Linked DNA regions of Homo sapiens. The protein of the gene in region 1 purifies or fractionates together with the protein of each later gene. This does not show direct contact. Each region holds a gene or a part of one and is shown in the gene's direction. Other genes may lie near its edges.

The links.
Region 2: the proteins of ASB3 (region 1) and CUL5 purify together in Homo sapiens (affinity purification with mass spectrometry; 7 studies listed by BioGRID). This does not show direct contact.
Region 3: the proteins of ASB3 (region 1) and ZSWIM8 purify together in Homo sapiens (affinity purification with mass spectrometry, with the first as the bait; 2 studies listed by BioGRID). This does not show direct contact.

The regions. Positions count from the first base shown.
Region 1 is NC_000002.12:53,785,115-53,788,862, reverse strand, and holds the start of ASB3 (ankyrin repeat and SOCS box protein 3), read left to right. Parts: upstream 1-1,909; 5' UTR 1,910-2,042; exon of another isoform or gene 2,043-2,578; intron 2,579-3,748. Other genes in the region: ERLEC1 (endoplasmic reticulum lectin 1 isoform 1 precursor), read right to left, coding at 1,491-1,652. UniProt on the Homo sapiens protein: Probable substrate-recognition component of a SCF-like ECS (Elongin-Cullin-SOCS-box protein) E3 ubiquitin-protein ligase complex which mediates the ubiquitination and subsequent proteasomal degradation of target proteins. Recognizes TNFRSF1B.
Region 2 is NC_000011.10:108,011,777-108,015,524, forward strand, and holds part of CUL5 (cullin-5), read left to right. Parts: intron 1-3,748. UniProt on the Homo sapiens protein: Core component of multiple cullin-5-RING E3 ubiquitin-protein ligase complexes (ECS complexes, also named CRL5 complexes), which mediate the ubiquitination and subsequent proteasomal degradation of target proteins.
Region 3 is NC_000010.11:73,788,479-73,792,226, forward strand, and holds part of ZSWIM8 (zinc finger SWIM domain-containing protein 8), read left to right. Parts: intron 1-191; coding exon 192-345; intron 346-617; coding exon 618-712; intron 713-888; coding exon 889-1,061; intron 1,062-1,238; coding exon 1,239-1,346; intron 1,347-1,477; coding exon 1,478-1,559; intron 1,560-1,693; coding exon 1,694-1,814; intron 1,815-2,496; coding exon 2,497-2,698; intron 2,699-2,845; coding exon 2,846-3,021; intron 3,022-3,380; coding exon 3,381-3,748. UniProt on the Homo sapiens protein: Substrate recognition component of a SCF-like E3 ubiquitin-protein ligase complex that promotes target-directed microRNA degradation (TDMD), a process that mediates degradation of microRNAs (miRNAs).

The DNA.
Region 1 (3,748 bases):
TGCTCTTTGGATACAACAACAGGTATTAAAGTATTCTCTTCCAAGCCTGCTAAAGTTATATCTGATTCATAACAAAATTTTACATAGGTATTTCAATGTATCAATATTTTGTGGCATTAATACAAAGAGAAATTTGACGTCCCAGAAAAATATTTACCTAGATAAATTCAGAACATTTGGTTCACACATGTAATCCCAGTATTCTGGGAGGCTCAGGCACGAGGATTGCTTGAGCCCAGGAGTTCGAGACCAGCCTAGGCAACATAGTGAGACCCTGCCTCTAGAAAAAAAAAAAAAAATTAGCCAGGAGTGGTGGGATTTCCCTATAGTCCCAGCTACTGGGAAGCTGAGGAGATCTCTTGAGCCCAGGAGGTCGAGGCTGCAGCCAGTGGTGACCGTACCACTGCACTTCAGAATGGGCAACAGACTGAGACCCTGTCTCAAAAAACAAACAAAAACAGAAAAACCCAAACCAAACCAAACCAAACCAAAAAACCCCTAACACTTGCAAATAGAAAGCTATGTGGTAATAACATCCATTAACTTGACACATCTTGTTTTGACATCATAGTGTCACTTACTGTTTCAATGAAATGGTAATGAAAGAATATAATAAAGTATTGCAAGTTGAATGCTTGAAGGTAATTGGAATAAAAAGTTTAAAAAAATTTTGCTTTTTCCGGGACTTCAATTTGAAGTAAATGAGTTAATTACTACATGGTAAGTGTCATAAGAGTACAATATTTATTAGCCTGCAGTAGGTACACGTGGACAGGAAGACTTTTCAGCGGTCCACTCCCCCAAGAGGGAATTTTCATTTCCGCGAGGTTACAAATGTTCTTCACTACAGGAAAACTCAACATAGAAGCTCATGTTCTGGGGACTCAAATAACAGTCGTAATACATGAAAACTGTAAAGGATATTCTGCATAAAGGGTCGTTAACATCTCACAGGCCAAATAGCCCTCTCAGAAACAACTAGGAAAGGAAAAAGTTCCCTTGGAGCTGTGCGTTTGCGTATGTCCGTGTGTGTATACAACTGAGGGAGAACGAATACGAGAGAGGGAACTCGAGTCTGAAGTACTGTGGTGTGGGCAGGGTGACATGTAATACTGAAGGAAAGAAGTCTGCTGGTGAAGTAAGAGCCACAGTTAATTTTCCGAAAGGAAGATGAGTAAGTGCACCTGACGTTATTCTACGAAAGCTGCTTCTGCAGGGTGGGAATGTTGGGAAGCAAGGTCTAGTGCGACAGAATTGAAAAGGTGGAGAGCAGGTGATTGCTGGATCCCTAATGCTCAGCAAGGGGGACGCATCCACATAACGTGAGAACGAACGAATGAATGAACGCTGCATAAAAGCAGCTTTGGCTTGGGGAAGGTAAGAGTCTGCAGAGAAGGTCTTGGGGAGAAAAAGCAAAGAAAACCGAGGGAAGAGGCCGAACCCTTAGTGTCAGGAGGAGGGGTGGCTGCGGGGTTAGTGAGGGCACTGACCAGAGAGAACTCGGTGCCGGGCCAGTTGACTCGGAAAGGGATGTCATCGCTGAGTTGAGGAAGGGCTCGGCCGCCGCCGGACGCCTCCAGGAGGCCGCAGAGGACCAGTAACACCGGCCCGCCCGGGACCAGACTCCGTACGCCGCCGCCTCCTTCCTCCATCCTCCGCCGCCGCTTTCTCCAGCCACCGCCACAACCTCCTCTGCTCCAGGAGGAGAGGAGGAGGAGGAGGAGGTGGAGGAGGAGGCGGCGGGACTATAAAGCGCCCGGGTATCACCGGCCCAACCGCCGCCACGTCTCCTTCCGGAGAGCCCGGCAACGCCGCCTCCGCCCCCTTGAGCCTCCTGTCACCGTTTCCGGGGCAGACGACATATCAACATCCGGGGGTCGCGGAGCCGTCCGCCTACGGGGGCCGGGACGTCGCCTGCGCGTCTCTCGTTTTCGGACGGCTGCAGCATCGCGGTGGGGATCGAAAGCGGGGGCTTCTGGGACGCAGCTCTGGAGACGCGGCCTCGGACCAGCCATTTCGGTGTAGAAGTGGCAGCACGGCAGGTCGGTGAGTCTCGGAGGCGGCAGCCGCTTCCTGAAGCCATTCCCGCTGCTCTCCAGTGGGCAGGCAGAGGTTTGACCCACACGGAGTGATAGCGGGAAGAAGACAGTGTGAACCGTGCGGGTGCGGGTCCTTAGATGAGAAAATTCGAAGTAGCGATGAGATGTGAGAAATGGCGGTGTTCCTGACTGACCTGCCTTCTTGCAGCTTTTCTTCTTTTTCTCCGCATTTGGCATTTGTACACTTCATTTTTCCCGCTTGAGGCTTATCTCCATCTCTTCTGCTGTGGACCGTGGCCATCTCGTTACTTAACAGCTTCTGACTAACGCAGGGCAGTTTGTTCAGCGACTGCAACTCTGTGTTAGGGGAAACCTGGGGTGAGGTAGCCCGCCATCTCCCCGTAGGTGAATACCGCAAGCCTCCGAATTTGGCGTGGTGGGCGACTCTCGTGGAATGGGCAGCTAGACATCACAACCCTACATTTTTACCCTCCATCTCTAGATTGAAGTGTTGGGGTGTTGTTTTATCAAGGAAGCTGGTAAGGTTCCTTATGTGAGGTTTAGCGCCAGATGAATGTGTGTGTTTATGAACTAAGTCACGTCTGACTGCATCCCCAAATTAGACAAAAAGTTTTGTTTTTCCCTCCCCCTCTTTAGAAAAAATGCCATTGTCTGTTTTGATCTCCAATATAATGGACATAGAGTGTTGGCTTTAGAGAAATTACCATTCCCTAAAGCTCGACAGTCTTGCTAGATCTGTTAAAGACTGGTCGCCCCCACTTCCTCAGATTTGAACCAAATCAAAAAGCAGGAAGGACAGTCCCATATTCTATCTTAAAAATTTTTTTTTAACATCAGGAATCCATAGTATCAAAGAAGATAACTTTCTTCAGAATTGTTATTCGCTAATTATATTCAGCACTTCTTATTAATGCTTAATGTGATCCAGACTCCTGGGATTTTTGTTGTTGTTGTTTGTTTTGAGACAAAGTCTCGCTCTGTCACCCAGGCTGGAGTGCAGAGGCATAATCTTGGCTCACTGCAACCTCCGCCTCTGGAGTTCAAGGGATTCTCCTTTTTCTCAGCCTTCCGAGTAGTTGGGATTACAGGCGCGCGCCGCTACACCCTAATTTTTGTATTTTTAGTAGAGGCAGGGTTTCACCACGTTGGCCAGGCTGGTCTCGAACTCCTGACCTCGGGTGATCCGCCCTCCTCGGCCTTCCAAAGTGCTGGGATTACAGGCCTGAGCCACTGTGCCTGGCCCCCCTGGGCTTGGTAAAATGCCAAATAAATGGGTTTCTGTCTTTGGTCACACAGTCTAGGCAGGGAGATTGTACAAACAAATAATTGCAAACTATTATAGTAGTAATAGTCAATTTTTTTTTTTTTTAGCATTTATTCTGTGCTAAGCACTAGTCTTAAGTCATGAAGGAAAAGAGATGTATTTGACGGAATAAAAATGAAAACTGTCTGTGAGGTCCTGTTTTAGCATTTAGGGCTATAGTGATTGAATCTGTGTTCAATAGAGCTGATGTTCAAGTAAGAGGGGAACTTAAATAAGTAAAATAATTTCTAGTATTGGTAAGTGCTGCAAAGAAACTAAGGTTATGTGAAAGACAATACCTGTAGGATGTGTTGCTTTTAGTACGTAAGTCAGAGGAGACTTCTGTGAGGAAGTGACATTTGAATTGTGACTTGAATGATGAAAA
Region 2 (3,748 bases), on another chromosome or scaffold:
GCCACCACGCCCAGCTAATTTTTGTATTTTTAGTAGAGACAGGGTTTCACCATGTTGGCTAGGATGGTCTCCATCTCTTGACCTCATGATCCACCCTCCTCGACCTCTCAAAGTGCTGGGATTATAGGCGTGAGCCACCATGTCTAGCTGCTTTTCTTTTTTAATATTGGAATTTGACTCTAATAATTTTATTGTCTGTTTAAAGCAAGTGGACTATTGCTGGATCTTAGAAGTCTTTCAGCTATGTAAAGATTTGTGTAGCACATTTTGACATATACAGTTAACTGCTTAGGGGTTTTGTATCTCTGAAAACCTTTCCATGTAACTACTTTATCTTTGTTGTTTTTCCTTACAGAGTGAGTCTGTAGAACATTTGTAGGGATCTGATATTATAATTTTATCTTCTGTTTTAGATTACTTTGAACATGTAATTGTGATTGTTCCTTTTCTTTTGCAATTATCATCTGGGCCCTTAGTGCTCATTTTTTTCATTTCCAGTTTATTGTTCCACCCCAAACAGCAATTGTTTAAACCTTTTCTTGCTGAGCCTCACCCCTCTTAATTCTTAGTACATTACTTTACCCAGCTATTTGAAGTGCCCTTAACTTCCTTGGTCGATACCAAACATTTTTCTTGTTTCTCCTATGTTCTTCTCTGTTCCATGCTACCTCCCAAATTGTCTCATTCTGCTTGTTCTTTTTCAGTCCTCATCTTCCCCCCAGGACTTGGTGGTATGTCCCCTCTTACTTTTTTTTTTTTTTTTTCAGTTTCCCTTTTTTCTCCTATGCCTATAAGAAAGTTCATATGTCGCGTCATATAAACTTTTCTTTTTTTTGGAGATGGAGTTTCGCTCTTGTTGCCCAGGCTGGAGTGCAGTGGTGTGGATCTCCACTCACTGCAACCTCCGCCTCCCAGGTTCAAGCAATTCTCCTGCCTCAACCTCCTGAGTAGCTGGGATTACAGGCACACGCCACCACACCCAGCTTATTTTTGTATTTTTAGTAGAGACGGGATTTTACCATATTGGCCAGGATGGTCTCAAACTCCTGACCTCAAGCGATCCGCCTACCTCGGCCACCCAAAGTGTTGGGATTACAGGCGTGAGCCACTGCACTCTGCCTCCTCATACAAACTTGTACTCTGCCTCTGCCTCAAACTTCTGTTTCTCACTGTCACAGTTCTTGGAAAAGCAGCCCCCATTTGCTGCCTTTATAATTCTTTGCCCTTTAACTTAATGATATGGCTTACTCTTCTCTCCCACCCAATTGTATAGAACCTGTCAGTCATAAAAGTATTAGCAACCTCCTGATTATCAAATGAGATTCTTCTCTGATAATATTTATCCTCTTTTCTGGTATTATTGCTCATTTCCTCTGCTTCTCTTTTGGTTTTTATGACATTCCCTCCTTGGTCTTCTCTCTCTCAAATCACGTTTGTTTTTCACTGACTTCCCTCCCCTGTCCCCAATAGAATTATTTCTCAGGATTTTATCTTCAGCCCTTTTCTATCTTTGTATATTTTTTTCTGGGACAGTCTTAACTCCCATGATTTCACTATTTTTATCTCTTAGCTCTGATCTGAGCTCTAGATCAAAATGCAGTTCTCACCATATCACTTTCCTGTTCAGATACCTTTGATGATTCAAATTATTTGAGATCTTTCCAGCTGGGTCTTCTCCTGATAACTAGTATTCTCTCTCTCTGTCTCTTGTCTCTCTCTCTCATACATGTGTGCGTACACACTCCTACTTAGCTGGTTACTTGTTGGCTCACTAGCATGCCAGAGGTCGTCATCTCCCTAATAACTAACTCTTAACTTTCATTCTCTCTCCTTCTGATTGGATCTAGTGAGATGGAGGCACAAGAAGGCAGTAGTATATAACCGAACCACAAGATAAATCAAACTTTAAACTGAAATATGATTCATACTACTTTTCTCAGTGGACTTTTTTTTATCCTTTAAGAGGAAAGAAAATGGAAATGTAAAGCAGTGATTCAGAGTGTCTATAGAGGCCGGGCATGGTGGCTCATGCCTGTAATCCCAGCACTTTGGGAGGATGAGGTGAGAGGATTACCTGAGGCCGACCTGGGCAATGTAGCAAGACCCTGTCTCTATAAAACAACAACAATAAAAAGTGCCTGTAAAAGTTATTCATTATTAAAATAACTTTATTGACATCCATATGCAAGGTACCATGGAGAATGCAAAGATATGTAGAACAATGTCCATGCTCTTTGGGAATTTACCATATGCTAAAGGAGAGTAAAAGGTACTAATGATTTATGATAAGGCAAAAGTTTCAGATGTGTTACCAACTGCTCTATGCTCCCTCACAGATTGAGGAAATAATTTCTGGTGGGATGATCAGTGAAAATTTTATGGAGAAAGTGTTGGAGCTGGATTTTGAATAAAGTGTTGGAGCTGGATTTTGAATAATGGGTAAGCTTTTTGTATTGGTAATTAGGAGAAAATTTGGTAGGAATCTAGGCTAGATCAGTGTGGCTGCAGTGTAAGCAGGGCTGCATGCTGTGTTAGATATTCTATATGAATAGTGTTCCTTGGGATTGTTGCAGCATAGAAACCCAGAATACAGGGAAACAACAAGAGGGATAGGAGTGAAAGGGAAGTCGGGTCAGATTACAAAGGGCCTTCAGTGCTAGGCAAGGGGTTTGAAATAAAGTTCTATAGTTACTGAGGAATATTTGAAAAATATGTGGGCAGAGATACTCTCAAGCCCTCAATCTATTTTTGGCTTTTACACATAAATAAAAGTTATTATATTTTCTGTATATTTATAATCTGCTTGTGAGATTGGCCATGGATGAGGGGCATTTGTGCCAGTGACATCTTGTTCATTGAAACCGTAACCATAGCAGGAGTAATTAAGTCTATGGGAAATACATTTATTCATTGAACGAGAATTTAGTATTTCCTAATTCTAACTAGATAATGATGAACTAGGCAGACAGCTCCTGCCCTTGTATAATTTACATTTTTGTTGGGAAGAGAGACAATAAACATAAACAGTGAAATACATACTGTAAGTCAAGTTGTGATAGGTACTATGAATAAAAACAACCAGGGTAAAAGAGAGAGTGCTCGGTGCTCTTATTATTATTATTATTTTTATTTTTATTTTTGAGACGGGGTCTCACTCTCTTGCCCAGGCTGGAGTGCAGTGGCACGATCTTGGCTCACTGCAACCTCCACCTCCTGGGTTCAAGCAATTCTCCTTCCTCAGCCTCCCGAGTAGTTGGGATTACCGGTGACCACCACCATGCTCGGCTGATTTTTGCATTTTTAGTAGAGATGGGGTTTCACCATGTTGGCCAGGCTAGTGTTGAACTCCTGACCTTAAGTGATCCTCCCACCTCAGCCTCCCAAAGTGCTGGGATTACAGGCATGAGCCATCACAGCTGGCTTATTTTTGATAAGATAGTGAGGGAATGCCTCTGAGGAGATAATAGTTGAGGTAAAACCAGAATGAAGCAAGGGAGCAAGTCATGTACATATTTAGAAGAGTTCCTTGTAGAGGGAACAGCCAGTGTGAAAGCACAGAGTCAGGATCATGCTTGGCAAGGAATATGGATGTGATACGAAGATTTGAATATCATCGGTGAATGTGGTTAAGGTGCATAACCAGAGAATTCTTTTTAATATGTCTAGTTAAACATAAATGAGAACCTTATTAAGAACTTGTCAATTTTTCATTGGGTTGATAGAAATTGCCCTCTTGAAACGTATATCT
Region 3 (3,748 bases), on another chromosome or scaffold:
CCCTTTCCCATATGGAGCCTTAAGGGTTAGTGTATCCTGATAGGGGGATCCCTAGGACTTTCATCCAGGTCTCTTCTTTCTTTCATAGTGAAGATGAGGCCCAGGATGTTGTACTGGCATGAGTGCCAAGAGACCATGGCCCTTTTCATTTCCTATTCTCTTTCCCCTGATCCCAACCATTGTTTGCAAAGATGGACTGGTGATCCCATTGGTGGAGCTGTCAGCAAAGCAGGTGGCATTTCATATCCCATTTGAAGTGGTGGAGAAAGTTTACCCACCAGTGCCTGAGCAGCTACAGCTCCGAATTGCTTTTTGGAGCTTCCCTGAGAATGAAGAGGACATTCGGTGAGGCCAAAGGACTGATGGTGGGGAGCGGGGTCCTGATACTCCACACTGTCTGCTGGGTTTCCCATAGAACAAAGGAGACATTGTATTTGGGGCAGTGGTAAGAGGAAGACAAGGGAGGGATTGCCTGGGATTCCACTCCCTCCCCCCCACCCCCCGCCCTGGGGAAGGAATGAGGCTAGGGAGAGAGTGCCTAGGGCATTGTGGTCTCTGACAGGGTCTGCCAAAGGTTATTTGCTGAGTTGTGGCTGTGTCCTCTTCTTCACCCCCAGGCTGTATTCGTGCCTGGCCAATGGCAGTGCGGATGAGTTTCAGCGAGGGGATCAGCTCTTCCGCATGCGGGCTGTGAAGGACCCATTGCAGATAGGTGAGTGGGCCATCATGCCATGTGGCACATCCTGCTCCTCCCATCCCCTGGCTTATGAAGTAAGAACACACCGCAAGAAGCTGGAGCATGTTGTCTGAATAACTGCAGGGCCAGGGTCAAGGGCAGAGACCCAGGTCCTGACAGCACTCCCTGACCATGCCCCCATTTCTCCCCAGGGTTCCACCTGAGTGCTACAGTGGTGCCACCTCAGATGGTCCCTCCTAAAGGGGCCTACAACGTGGCTGTGATGTTTGACCGCTGCCGGGTCACTTCCTGCAGCTGTACCTGTGGGGCTGGGGCCAAATGGTGCACCCACGTCGTGGCACTCTGTCTCTTCCGCATCCACAACGTGAGGCCCTCCCAATTTATCCCGGCCCTATCCTACACTCCATCCCCCCCTTCTCTGCTGCATGCCTGGCTACAATGTGAGCCCCCTCGCCTCGCCTACTCTGCCTCTCTGTCCCCCAGCTCCAGCTCCAGCAAACCTGTTCTCAGATTGTTCCATTTTTCTCTGTGTCCCCTTCAGGCTTCTGCAGTCTGCCTGCGAGCCCCAGTCTCAGAGTCCCTGTCCCGGCTACAGAGGGACCAGCTGCAAAAGTTTGCTCAGTACCTCATCAGTGAGCTCCCTCAGCAGGTGGGTGAGGTCGGCACCCCCTCCTGCAATTAGCTCCGGGCCAGGCCGCATAACAGCCTTCCTGTTAGGCCCAGGCCTCCATGGGTTCACCTAGGCCGTGTTCTGCCTGCCTCCGTCTCTTTCTCCCTCAGATCCTCCCCACAGCTCAGCGTCTCCTGGACGAACTCCTGTCTTCCCAGTCAACAGCCATCAATACAGTGTGTGGAGCTCCGGGTGAGTGTGGTGAGAAAGATTGGCAGTAGGAAGAAAGCCAGCTTGTAGTACAGAGCGCCATTTACTCAAGGCTTGCTGTTGTCAGGCAAATCCAGGCCCCTATCTCTAGATGACTGACTGCCTGTCATCCTCAGACCCCACAGCAGGGCCCTCAGCATCGGACCAGAGTACTTGGTATCTGGATGAATCGACACTCACTGACAACATCAAAAAGACACTGCACAAGTTCTGTGGCCCCTCCCCTGTGGTCTTCAGGTAAATCGGATCTCTGCATACCTGTGTCTGTGGTGGAGGGGGAGCGTCCCTCAGGCTGATGACAGATCCTTTCTTCTATTCATGCCTGTGACCCCTACCTTTTATTCCCTGAACTGGCACAGTGCCTGGCACACAGTTGTCACTAACGAATTGATGGAAGATGATGACCTTGTACAGTCACAGAGTGGTCTGCTCTTACCTAGCAAGAGTTCCTTTTCTTCTTTTGATAGATCAGGAAATGGAAACAGAGAAAGATTTTTTAAAGAGTTTTTGTGGCTGGGGGCGGTGGCTCATACCTATAATCCCAGCATTTTGGGAGGCTGACGTGGGCAGATCACCTGAGATCAGGAGTTCGAGACCAGCCTGGCCAACATGGCGAATCTCCATCTCTACTAAAAAAACAAAAATTAGCCAGGCGTGGTGGCGGGCGCCTGTAATCTCAGCTACTTGGGAGGCTGAGGCAGGAGAATTGCTTGAACCCGGGAGGTGGAGGTTGCAGTGAGGTGAGATCGCGCCATTGCACTCAAGCCTGGGCGACAGAGCAAGACTTGGTCTCAAAAAAAAAAATTTTGTTACAGATGTCTTTTTCCCTCTATCTTCTGTATTTTGGGGCCGGAAGCCCTTTTAGGTTTCATTCAGCCCCGTCTTACTGTCATGGTTTTCTGTTCCTCTGCTTTTACAGTGATGTGAACTCCATGTATCTGTCTTCCACGGAGCCGCCAGCCGCTGCTGAATGGGCATGTCTGCTGCGCCCTCTGAGGGGCCGTGAGCCAGAGGGCGTCTGGAACCTGCTAAGCATTGTGCGGGAGATGTTCAAGCGGAGGGACAGCAATGCTGCCCCCTTGTTGGAAATCCTCACTGACCAGTGCCTCACCTATGAACAGGTAATCACTCAGCGTTGGGGAGCCCCGTGGTAGCTCATTCTTTCCCTCCCCCTGCCTCATCCTCCTCTTGCTGAAATGGACTCTGGGAGGGCTACTCTGCCTTTCTCTGAGCTCTCAGGTGCAGCTCACAGCCTTCTTTGTCTCCAGATAACAGGTTGGTGGTATAGCGTACGTACCTCAGCCTCACACAGCAGTGCCAGTGGGCACACGGGCCGTAGCAACGGGCAGTCAGAGGTGGCAGCCCATGCCTGTGCCAGCATGTGTGACGAGATGGTCACACTGTGGAGGCTGGCCGTGCTGGACCCTGCACTCAGCCCCCAGCGGTGAGTCTCCCCTGAGGCTCACCACAGAACTGAGCCTGGGCCAGCTCAGGACAGACTGAGCCTTCATCTCCTTGTTTGCAGAGACATACCATGATTTTAGTCCTCGGGAAACGGGAGGTGCTGAGCACTGGTGTTAGCAGTGATTTACGAGTCCTTTTTCTGAGAGGCTTTCATCCTTCCTTCCCCTAAATAACACCCACTTTTCAAAATTCTCCAGTGTTTCAGTGATGCTTATGGGGCTGGGTCAAGAAGTACTTTCCTGTATCCTTTCCCCATGCCTCTCTTTGGGGTGTACACCTACTCCATGCCCATCCTTTCCCAGTAGCCCCTCAGCAGCCTCCTGCCCCTTGTTCCCACAGGCGCCGGGAACTGTGTACGCAGCTGCGGCAGTGGCAACTGAAGGTGATTGAGAACGTCAAGCGGGGCCAACACAAGAAGACGCTGGAGCGGCTCTTCCCCGGCTTCCGGCCAGCGGTGGAGGCCTGCTACTTCAACTGGGAAGAGGCCTACCCACTTCCTGGTGTCACCTACAGCGGCACTGACAGGAAGCTGGCACTGTGCTGGGCCCGGGCCCTGCCCTCTCGGCCAGGTGCCTCCCGCTCTGGGGGCCTGGAGGAATCCCGGGACCGGCCCCGACCCCTTCCTACTGAGCCAGCTGTGCGGCCCAAGGAGCCTGGGACCAAGCGAAAGGGCTTGGGTGAGGGGGTCCCCTCATCACAGCGGGGTC